Linked DNA regions of Homo sapiens. The protein of the gene in region 2 interacts with the protein of the main gene of each other region in a pairwise test. Each region holds a gene or a part of one and is shown on either strand. Other genes may lie near its edges. The genes, in order: BTBD2 and NGB.

What was found.
Region 1: the proteins of NGB (region 2) and BTBD2 interact in binary tests that used the Homo sapiens proteins (3 or more experiments, as listed by UniProt).

What each region holds. Positions count from the first base shown.
Region 1 is NC_000019.10:2,005,407-2,012,918, reverse strand, and holds part of BTBD2 (BTB/POZ domain-containing protein 2), read left to right. Parts: intron 1-7,512.
Region 2 is NC_000014.9:77,264,983-77,268,206, forward strand, and holds the end of NGB (neuroglobin), read right to left. Parts: intron 1,689-3,224; coding exon 1,554-1,688; 3' UTR 501-1,553; downstream 1-500. UniProt on the Homo sapiens protein: Monomeric globin with a bis-histidyl six-coordinate heme-iron atom through which it can bind dioxygen, carbon monoxide and nitric oxide.

The DNA.
Region 1 (7,512 bases), on a different chromosome or scaffold from region 2:
CTCACCCAGCAGCAGGTGCAGCTGGAGAATCCCAGGCTTTCTGTTTGAGGGGGGAGGTGGGGCGCCCCGGGCACCGGCTGACCTTGGGACATGTATGCGATTGCACTTGAGGGACCGCTGGCTCGGTTGCAAAGTGGGGAAGATGGAGGCAGGACAAGGACCCCTTGGAGAAAAGTAGGTGAGGGGTCTGCCCCCGGGGGGCTCAGGAGAGGGCAATGAGGCCCAGCGGGAGATAGCAGCAAGGTAAGGTGGGCGGGCCTGGGACAGCGGACCCTCGACATGCGGGGTTAGGGGCGTGGACCCCCACTCAGCTCAAATCCAAGTACAACTTTTGACTCCCACGAACTTAACTAGGAATGGCTTCTCGCTGACCGGAGGCCTTGTGAGGACACTTGGTCAATGCACACCAGCCTCCTGTTCTCACAATAACAGGCTGGAGAACAGAAAATACATTCAGAAAAGTCTAAGGGGCCGGGTGCGGGGGCGCACGCCTGGAATCCCAGCACTTTGGGAGGCCGAGGCGGGCAGATCACGAGGTCGGGAGATCGAGACCAGCCTGGTCAACACGGTGAAACCCTGTCTCTACAAAAATACAAAAATTAGCCGGGCGTGGTGGCGCACACCTGTAATCCCAGCTACTCAGGAGGCTGAGGCAGGAGAATCTCGTGAACCCAGGAGGTGGAGGTTGCAGGGAACCGAGATTGCGCCATTGCACTCCAGCCCAGGCGACACAGTGACACACCATCTCAAAAAAAATAAAGGACAGGCTGGGCGCGGTGGCTCACGCCTGTAATCCCAGCACTTTGGGAGGCCGAGGCGGGCGAATCATGAGGTCAGGAGTTTGAGACCATCCTGGCCAACGTGGTGAAACACCGTCTCTACTAAAAATACAAAAAATTAGCCGGGTGTGGTGGTGCACAACTGTAGTCCCAGCTACTTGGGAGGCTGAGGCAGGAGAATCACTTGAACCCGGGAGGCGGAGGTTGCAGTGAGCCGAGGTTGCGCTACTGCACTCCAGCCTGGGCGACAGAGCAAGACTCTGTCTCAAAAAAAAAAGGAAAAAAAATAAAAGGAGAAATCCTGTTTGCTGTTCACACAGTGGAGGTGGCCACGATGAAGGCCTGTGTCCTTGTGTTCATATTGAGGGCTGAGGAGCAGGAGCAGGAGGGTGGGTCTGTCTCCGGGGTGGCAGAGGTGGAAGGGGAGGCAGGAGAGGCCGGCACCGTTGGGGCAGCCTTTATTGAAAAAATTCACATATGAGTGGACCTGTGCAGTTGAAGCCTGCCTTGTTGAAAGGTCATCTGTGTTTCCTTAGCATTTCAGGAGGGTTGAAAATGGAGAGGGGGCACTGACCTGGTCCAGAACGACCCCCTGAGCAAGTGATGTTGATGGAGAGTGCAGTGCCCCAGGCTCAGGGATGGAAGGCCCAGAGCCCAGAGGGGCTGGGCAGGTGGGAGCCATGGCAAGGCCGGAGCAGGAGGAGTGAGGGAGGCCCTGTGGCCCAGTGTGACCAGATCCGCATTGAGGGTGGAACGCGCCGTGGATGGGCCCAGGAGCGAGGCTGGGGAGTAGCAGCTGCAGACTCCAGGCAGGAGACAGCAGCGGGCTCGGTGGGGACGGCAGAAATGAGGGGTAGAGGATGCAGGTCCTCTTTGGAGGAAGCGAGTTCCTGTGGCCAGGAGAGGAGGCAGCTTGGCAGGTGAGGGCGTGGGGGGCTGTGGTGGGGGTCCCCAGACTTCTGGCTGGAGCATCACAAGCCAGGACAGGCTCAGGAGGGACAAGTACTGGCTTGGATGTGTTGGCGGGACCTGGGGCTGAGAGGTCCGCAGAGCAGTGTGTCCCAAGTGCTCTGTGCCTCAGTTTCCATGATTGAAACAAGGTCACTCAGACACATCTGTCCTGGGGCTGTGGGAACAAACGGACCCGATGGGTTGCTGACAGCCACAGGCCACACAGCAGAGAGAAAGAAAACAGCAGCTGAGGCCGGGCGCAGTGGCTCACGCCTATCATCCCAGCACTTCGGGAGGCCGAGATGGGCAGACATCTGAGGTCAGGGGTTTGAGACCAGCCTGGCCATCGTGGCAAAACCCCGTCTCTACTAAAAATACACAAATAAGCTGGGCGCGGTGGCACGCACCTGTAATCCCAGCTACTCAGAGTCTGAGGCAGGAGGATGGCTTGAATCCGGAAGGCAGAAATTGCAGTGAGCCAAGATTGCGCCACTGCACTCCAGCCTGGGTGACAGGGCGAGACTCCGTCTCAAAAAAAAAAAAAAGGTGGGGGGATGTCGGGACGAACTGGGGGTGCTGGGATAAAGTCTGGAGTTCACCGATGAGCAGAGAGGGGCCGGGCCTTGCCAGCTGTGAGGAGAGCAAGTGGCCTGGGCTTGGGCCTGGTCCCTGGCGGGGGTGCAGGGTGAGCTGAGACATGGCAGAGAGGAGGCTGGGAGCAGGCCTTGGTGGTGGCCCCAGTGTCTGGACCGTCGCGCAGGGGTCGGCGTTTGTGCTGGGGAGGAGGCCAGGGGTTGCACGCGGCTTCTGGGCTGTTCCCCGGTCCTGGATGGGCACCCGTCCATCTCAGCGCGCTGGAGCCTGGCACACAGTAGGCACGCAGTGATTGTGCATTGAATGATCTGTGGGAATTAAACATCTGATTCTCTCATGGGGCTTGAAGGGAGAACTGAAGATCTCCAGGGTTGCACTTTTGTAGATGTGCACATTGGCTGGTCCCATGAAGTTAGTATCTAAAATACCTTTTTCTTTTTTTTGAGACGGAGTCTCGCTCTGTTGCCCAGGCTGGAGTCCAGTGGCGCGATCTCCGCTCACTGCAAGCTCCGCCTCCCAGGTTCATGCCATTCTCCTGCCTCAGCCTCCCGAGTAGCTGGGACTACAGGCACCCGCCACCACACTTGGCTAATTGTATTTTTTAGTAGAGACGGGGTTTCACCATGTTAGCCGGGCTAGTCTCAAACTCCCGACCTCAGGTGATCCGCCCACCTCGGCCTCCCAAAGTGCTGGGATTACAGGCGTGAGCCACCGCACCTGGCCTCCCCTCCTTTTTTGTTTTTTTGAGACAGAATCTTGCTCTATTGCCCAGGCTGGGGTACAGTGGCGTGATCTCCGCATGCTGCAGCCTTCAGCTCCCTGGCTCAAGCAATTCTCCTGTCTCAGCCTTCTGAGTAGCTGGGATTACAGGTGTGCGCCACCACGCCCAGCTAATTTTTGTATTTTTAGTAGAGACAGTATTTCCGTCATGTTGCCCAGGGTGATGGTGAACTCCTGAGCTCAGGTGATCCACCCACCTCGGCCTCCCAAAGTGCTGGGATTCCAGGTGTGAGCCACCGCGCCCAGCCTAACGTATCTTTATTCACTCTATCATGGAACTGTCAGCATTGTAGCGAGGTCTAGAAGTAGAACAATCTGGGTGGGTGTGGTGGCTCACGCCTGTAATCCCAGCACTTTGGGAGGCCGAGTCAGGCGGATCACGAGGTCAGGAATTTGAGACCAGCCTGGACAACATGGTGAAACCCCGTCTCTACTAAAAATACAAAAAATTAGCCTGGTGTGGCGGTGGGCACCTGTAATCCCAGCTACTTGGGAGGCTGAGGCAGGAGAATTGCTTGAACCCGGGAGGCGGAGGTTGCAGTGAGCCAAGATCACGCCACCACACTCCAACCTGGGTGACAGACTGAGACTCCGCCTCAAAAAAGAAGAAAAAAGAAAAACCACAAAAATTAGCCGGGCGTGGTGGCGAGCGCCTGTAACCCCAGCTACTGGGGAGGCTGAGGCAGGATAATCGTTTGAACCTGGGAGGCGGAGGTTGCAGTGAGCCAGGATTGTGCCACTGCACTTCAGCCTGGGTGACAAAGCGAGACTCTGTCTTGGAAAAAAAAAAAAAAGAACAGTGTGTTCTGGGGTCTCACATTTCATTGACTGCTTTGTGAGTCCTTGTTCCCATAACACATTGTTTGATGATTGCTGCTTTGTGGTATGTTTTGAGAACTGCTCACCAAATTCTTCCCAACTTTATTCTTTGTGAAGACTTTTCAGGCTGAGTGCAGTGGCTCACATCTGTAATCCCAGCACTTTGGGAGGCTGAGGTGGGAGGATCACTTGACCCCAGGAGTTCGAGACCAGTCTGGCCAATATAGCGAGACCTCATTACTTGGACATGGTGGTGTGTGCCTGTGGTCCCTGCTACTCAGGAGGCTCGGGTAGGAGGATCACCTGAGCCTGGGAGGTTGCCGCTGCAGTGAGCCATGATCCTACCACTGCACTCCATCCTGGGCGATAGAGTGAGACTCTGTCCCTAAAAAAAAAAAAAAAAAAAGCTGGGCACAGTGGCTCACGCCTGTAATCCCAGCATTTTGGGAGGCCAAGGCGGGCAGATCACCTGAGGTCAGGAGTTCGAGATCAACTTGGCCAACATAGTGAAACTCTGTCTGTATTAAAAATACAAAAAGTACCCAGGCATGGTGGCTTGCACCTGCTGCTTGAGAGGCTGAGGCAGGAGAACCGCTTAAACCTGGGTGGCAGAGGTTGTGGTGATCTGAGATCGCACGACTGGGCTCCAGCTTGGGCAACACAGCGAGACTCCACCTAGAAAAAAAAAAAAAGAGTGGGCGCAGTGGCTCACCCCTGTAATCCCAGCACTTTGGGAGGCTGAGGCAGGCGGATCACCTGAGGTCAGGAGTTTGAGAGCAGCCTGGCAAACATAGTGAAACCTTGTCTCTACTAAAAATACAAAATTAGCCAGGCGTGGTGGCAGGTGCCTGTAATCCCAGCTACTCGGGAGGTTGAGGCAGGAGAATTGCTTGAACCTGGGAGGTGGAGGTTGCAGTGAGCTGAGATCGTGCTGCTGCACTCCAGCCTGGGCAAAAAGAGTAAAATTCTGTCTCAAAAAAAAAAAAAGACTTTCTCAGCTGGTCTGACACATTTATTACTCTTCTAGAATCAGTCACCCACATCCACCCATCTGTCCACCCTACAGATACTCACTGAAATACAGTCCTGGCTACAGGAGGTGCATATGACAGAAAAACATCTCCTTCCTTATGGAACTTATATTCTGTGTTTTGTTTTATTATTTTTTGAGACAGAGTCTCGCTCTGTTGCCCAGGCTGAAGTGCAGTGGCATGATCTTGGCTCGCTGCAAAGCTCTGCCTCCTGGGTTCCCGGCAGTTCTCTTGCCTCAGCCTCCCGAGTGGCTGGGATTACAGGTGTGCACCACCACACCCGGCTAATTTTTGTATTTTTAGAGACGGGGTTTCGCCATTTTGGCCGGGCTGGTCTCAAACTCCTGACCTCAGGCTATCCCCGGCCTCCCAAAGTACTGGGATTACAGGTGTGAGCTACCGTCCCTGGCCTAAGGCGGGAAGATCTTTTGAAGCCAAGAGTTTGGTACCAGTGTGGGCAACATAGTGAGACCTTGACTGTGTGTAAAACAAAACCAAAACAGATAAAAGACACAGGTGCCAGCAAATTCATGTGAAGGGTCAGATAGTAAATATTTTTGGCAGGCCATACTGTCTCAGTTGCAGCTACTTAATTCTGCCGTAGCAGCACAAAAAGCCATAAATCAACAACATGTAACTGAGCAAGAAGAGCTGTGTTCTAATAAAACTTTATTGGCCAGGTGCAGTGGATTACACCTGTAATCCTGGCACTTTCGGAGGCCGAGGCAGGAGTATCACCTCAGGTCAGGAGTTCAAGACCAGCCTGGCCAACATGGTGATACTCCGTCTCTACTAAAAATACAAAAAGTGGCTGGGCGCAGTGGCTCACGCCTGTAATCCCAGCACTTTGGGAGGCCGAGGCAGGTGGATCATGAGGTCAGGAGTTCAAGACCAGCCTGGCCAAGATGGTGAAACCCCATCTCTACTAAATATACAAAAATTAGCCGGGCGTGGTGGCGAGCGCCTGTAATCCCAGCTGCTTGGGAGGCTGAGGCAGGAGAATTGCTTGAACCTGGGCAGCAGAGGTTGCAGCGAGCCGAGATCGCGTCACTGCACTCCAGCCTGGGCGATAGAGTGAGACCGTCTCAAAAAAATAAAAAATAAAAAAATTAGCTGGGCATGGTGGTGAGCACCTGTAATCCCAGCTACGTAGGAGGCTGAGGCAGGAGAATCGCTTGAATCTGGGAGGAGGAGGTTGCAGTGAGCTGAGGTAGTGCCAGTGCAGGCCAGCCTGGTCAACAAGAGTGAAACTCCGTCTCAGAAAAAAAAAAAACTTAATTTACAAAAACAAGTGGTGGGCCAGATTCACTCTAAGGGCCATAGTTTGCCAGCCCTGGGCTAACGGTGCCTGATGATCTTGAGAATCAGTTTGTCAAGTGATAAAGGAATTTACTGAGGAGATTGGTCTTTCTAAGGACATAAAGTTGGGTGATTTTTCTTTTCTTTTTTTTTTTTTTTGAGACGGAGTCTCGCTCTGTCGCCCAGGCTGGAGTGCAGTGGCACAGTGTCAGCTCACTGCAAGCTCCGCTTCCTGGGTTCAAGTGATTCTCCTGCCTCAGCCTCCCGAGTAGCTGGCATGTTTACTTTTATCTGGTTTGAACTGTTTCTTCCTGAAGCCTTATTAGGTTTAACAGTTTTTCTGTGGTCTTGTGCTCTGCAGTAGAGTATCCTGTAGTAAGCGGGATGGTTTGGATGTGTGCTGTCCAATACTAGGCACTCATGTGCCAGTACGGACTACAGATGTGGACAGTGTGACCGAGGAGTTGAATGTTGAATTCAGCTGAATTTGGATATAGATTTAAATAGCCATGTGTGTCTAGTATTGACCCCTTGGACTCTTAGACTTTTTAAAAATTAAATTTTTTTTTTTTTTTTTAGAGACAGGGTCTCACTCTGTCACCCACACTGGAGTTCAGTGGCTCGATCATAGCTCACTGCAGCCTCCAGCTTCTGGGCTCAAACAGTCCTCCCACCTTAGCCTCCCAAGTAGCTGGGACTATAGACATGCACCACTATGCTCGGCTGATTTTTTTCTGTTTAGTAGAGATGGGGTCTGCTGTGTTGCTCAGGCTGGTCTTGAACTTGTGGGTTCAGGTGATCCTCCCAACTTGGCCTCCCAAAGCACTGGGATTACAGGTGTGAGCCACTGCTTTGGCTAAAAAATAATTTTTTTTTTTTTTTTTGAGACGGAGTTTTGCTCTTGTTCCCAGGCTGGAGCGCGATGGTGTGATCTTGGTTCACTGCAACCTCTGCCTCCCAGGTTCAAGCGATTCTCCTGTCTCAGCCTCCTTAGTAGCTGGGATTACAGGCTCCGGCCACTGCACCTGACTACGTTTTGTATTTTTAGGAGAGATGGCGTTTCATCCTATTGGTCAGGCTGGTCTCGAACTCCTGACCTCAGGTGATCCACCCGCCTCGGCCTCCCAAAGTGCTGGGATGACAGACATGAGCCACTGCGCCTGGCTAAAAAATAATTTTAAAAATTAGCCAGGCATGGTGGTGCACGCCCTAGTCCCGGATACTCAGGAGGCTGAGGTGAGAGGATCACTTGAGCCCAG
Region 2 (3,224 bases):
TGATTCTGATTAATAGGCACCTTCCTCCAAGCAGCGATTCAGGGTCAGGACTCCTTTCACCTGTGGCTCTGCCATGTTCAACACGTGGCCCTCATGGTCTCTGTGAGGTCTGTATCACACCAGCAGAAGGATGACAGAGCATGGAGGAGCATGCAGGAGTTTTGGGGGACCAGGCCTCGGAGTGGCACACACATCTGCACGGTCCAGCGGCCAGAGCCCAGTCACATGCCCCACCTAATTGCAAGGGTGGCTGCATGACATCCAGCTGTGTGCCCAGGAGGAAGAAGAGCTGGTTTGTGGTCTGCCAGCCAGTTTGGGCCACAGACCCCACAGATGTCTGCCACTGGCTTCCCAGAGCTTCCTCCCAGGCCCCTCCCTCCTGTTCCACCCACTCCAGCCTTGGCCTCCCTGACTCCATCCTCCCATCCTGTCCTGAGATCCACTGCCCTGCAGCTTCATCTGGCACAGGCCAAGACCCAAGAAAAGATCAGGCCCGAGGGTCAGAGAGGCACACAGAACCAGTTTATTTCTCATGAATTTATAGGACCACAGTCAGCACAGAGCAAATGGTACAAGTGCAGATGGCTGGGGTGAGGGCGGGGGCCTCTGCTGCTGCCTTCTCTTCTCTCCAGCTGCCTGAGTACTGGCACACAGCGGGCAGTGAATCTGAGGAGCTGTGGCCTCACAGTCGCTGCAGGCTGAGCCAGAAAGGAGGGCCAGGGGAGGTAAGACTCACTCCTGCAGGAGCGGGTTGGTGATGAAGGGCTGGGGGAACTCGGGTCTCTCTGGGATGAAGTCACCCCTCCTTCCTGGCCGGTCCCCAGCCCCTCCCCACCTGGCCAGCTAGCTGGGTTCCTGCAGCAGCGGAATAGTCAGGGAGTTCCCAGCAGAAGTGCTGAATGAGGGAAAGGGAATGCCGCCAAAGGAAACCGACTCTGTCAGGGCATCTGCACAGCCCGCGAGACTCAAATGAGACCCATTGAGACCCAGGTCCCCCTTCCCTTCCCTGGCAGTTCTGATTCTGCTCCCACTGCCTGGGATTCCACCAAGAAGGCTAAAGCTGCTCTTTCTCTTTATTTGTGAAAAGCAAGCCATCTTGGGGCAGGAAAGCAGTGAAGGGACTGGGCAGGCAGGACAGAAGGCGCTGGAAGCTCAGCCATCTCACCCCCGCCTTGGCCTGCACTCACCTGAAGAAGCAGGACAGACAGAAGAGCCCCATCCTCTCCCACCTCCATACCTTTCCAGCTCATCCCACCTCTGCCACCAAAACACTCATCGCGGGGTCAGAGGGAGTGCCAAAAAAGGTAAAAAGAAACGCAAGAAAGAGGCTACTGGGGATGAGGGGACACCCAGAAGCCCCTTCCTGGAGGAAAAGCCACTCCTTCTGCAGCTGGACTCTAGGATACTGAGACCCAGCCCTGCCCCATCACCTCTCCAGTGTGGCCAAGGGGACAAGGACCAAGATGCAGGGAAGCTTGGGGAGCCTGGGCTACAACAGATACAGGCCAACAGACAGACACAGATGGATGGGGGCTGCCGGGCGGGGTCGCCTCTTACTCGCCATCCCAGCCTCGACTCATGGCCTGCACTACGGCCCCGTAGAGTTGGCTCCAGGCAGCCCGTGTGGCTGGTGTGAAGGCAGGGCCCAGACACTTCTCCAGCATGTAGAGCAGAGACTCACCCACTGTCTGCAGAGGCAAGGGGCACCTTGTCACTTCCAAAGGCAGAAAGGCACTGCTCCATTCCACAGGTGAGAAAACTGAGGCCTAGGACTGATTAGGGCTCCTGGGCCTTTTTTCCTCTCCTGCATTGAGTCCATGCTTCCTGAGCAGGGTCCTACCCAAATCCTTGGGTATCACATTGTGTCTACCTTTCCCTCTAAATGTGAGGCTTTATATCCTCACATTTTTCACCCCTGTCTTGGTCTTGCAACCACCCCATGAGTGGGGCCAAGACATTGCCTGGGACCTCCCAGCTTAGACCAAACCAAGTCATTGCTCCCAGACTTGAGTTTCCTCATCTGCAAGGCAGCAATGATGGGGTTAAGAGCCTGGGCTCTGGAGCCAGATAGACCTGAGTACAGATTCTGACTCCACCCTTCATCAGCTGGGTGACCTTGGGTAAGTTATGTAACCTCTCTGAGCCTCAGCTGCTTCATCAGTGATACAGGGAAAGTAGAAGCTCCAACTCCTGGGCCTGTTGGGATGATTAAATGGGATAATCCAGAAAAAGCTCTTAGCACAGCATCTGTATACAGGAAACCTACAATGATAATAGGCCAGGTGCAGTAGCTCACGCCTATAATCCCAGCACTTTAGGAGGCTGAGGTGGGCAGACCACTTGAGCCCAGGAGTTTGAGACCAGCCTGGTAAACATGGGAAAACTCCATCTCTACCAAAAATACAAAAATTAGCTGGGCATGGTGGTGCATGCCTGTAGTCCCAGCTATGAGGGAGGCTGAGGTGGGAGGATCACTTGAGCCTGGGAGGTTGAGGCTGCAGTGAGCTGTGATCACATCACTGTACTCCAGCCTAGGCGACAGAGCAAGATTCTGTCCCCAGAATAAATAAGTAAGTAAATAAATAAATAAAGATAATGGCTCTCATTTGCCATTATTACTCATAATAAAATAAGGTTTATTTATCTCACAAATATTAACTGAATATCCACTGTAGCCCTGGTAGATCAGGCACTATGCTGGTGCTGGGGATGGAGAGGAGGACAAGACCAACACAGCTCCTTCCTCAAGGTGCTCACCATCTGGCAAGGTGACTGGACTGTGTGGTGTACTGTCATATCAGTCGCCCCCAGTGGGCTACACCTCAAGGATTCATGCCCTTGAGTAGGGTCCTCCCACATTGACACTGGGCTTATCCATGTGAGTGGCTTTGGCCAATGGGACATTAGCAAAAGTGATGCAAGCAGAGGCTTTATAGGCACTTTCACACTGGGGCTTGTCCTCTAAAAACTCCCCCTTGGAACTCAGCTGCTATTCTATAAAGAAGCTCAGCTAGACTAGTGAATGACAACAAATCACAGGGACAGAGCTCAAAGGCTGACAGGCCTTGGACATTCTAGCCTCAGTTGAGCTCCCAGCTAAACATAACACACAAGTAACTCCAGCTACACCATGTGGAGCAGAAGAGCTGCCCAGCTGAGCCCAGCCATGAGAAATCGGAAAGCATTGTCATAGTTCTAGGGTTGTTTGATACATAGCAATAGAA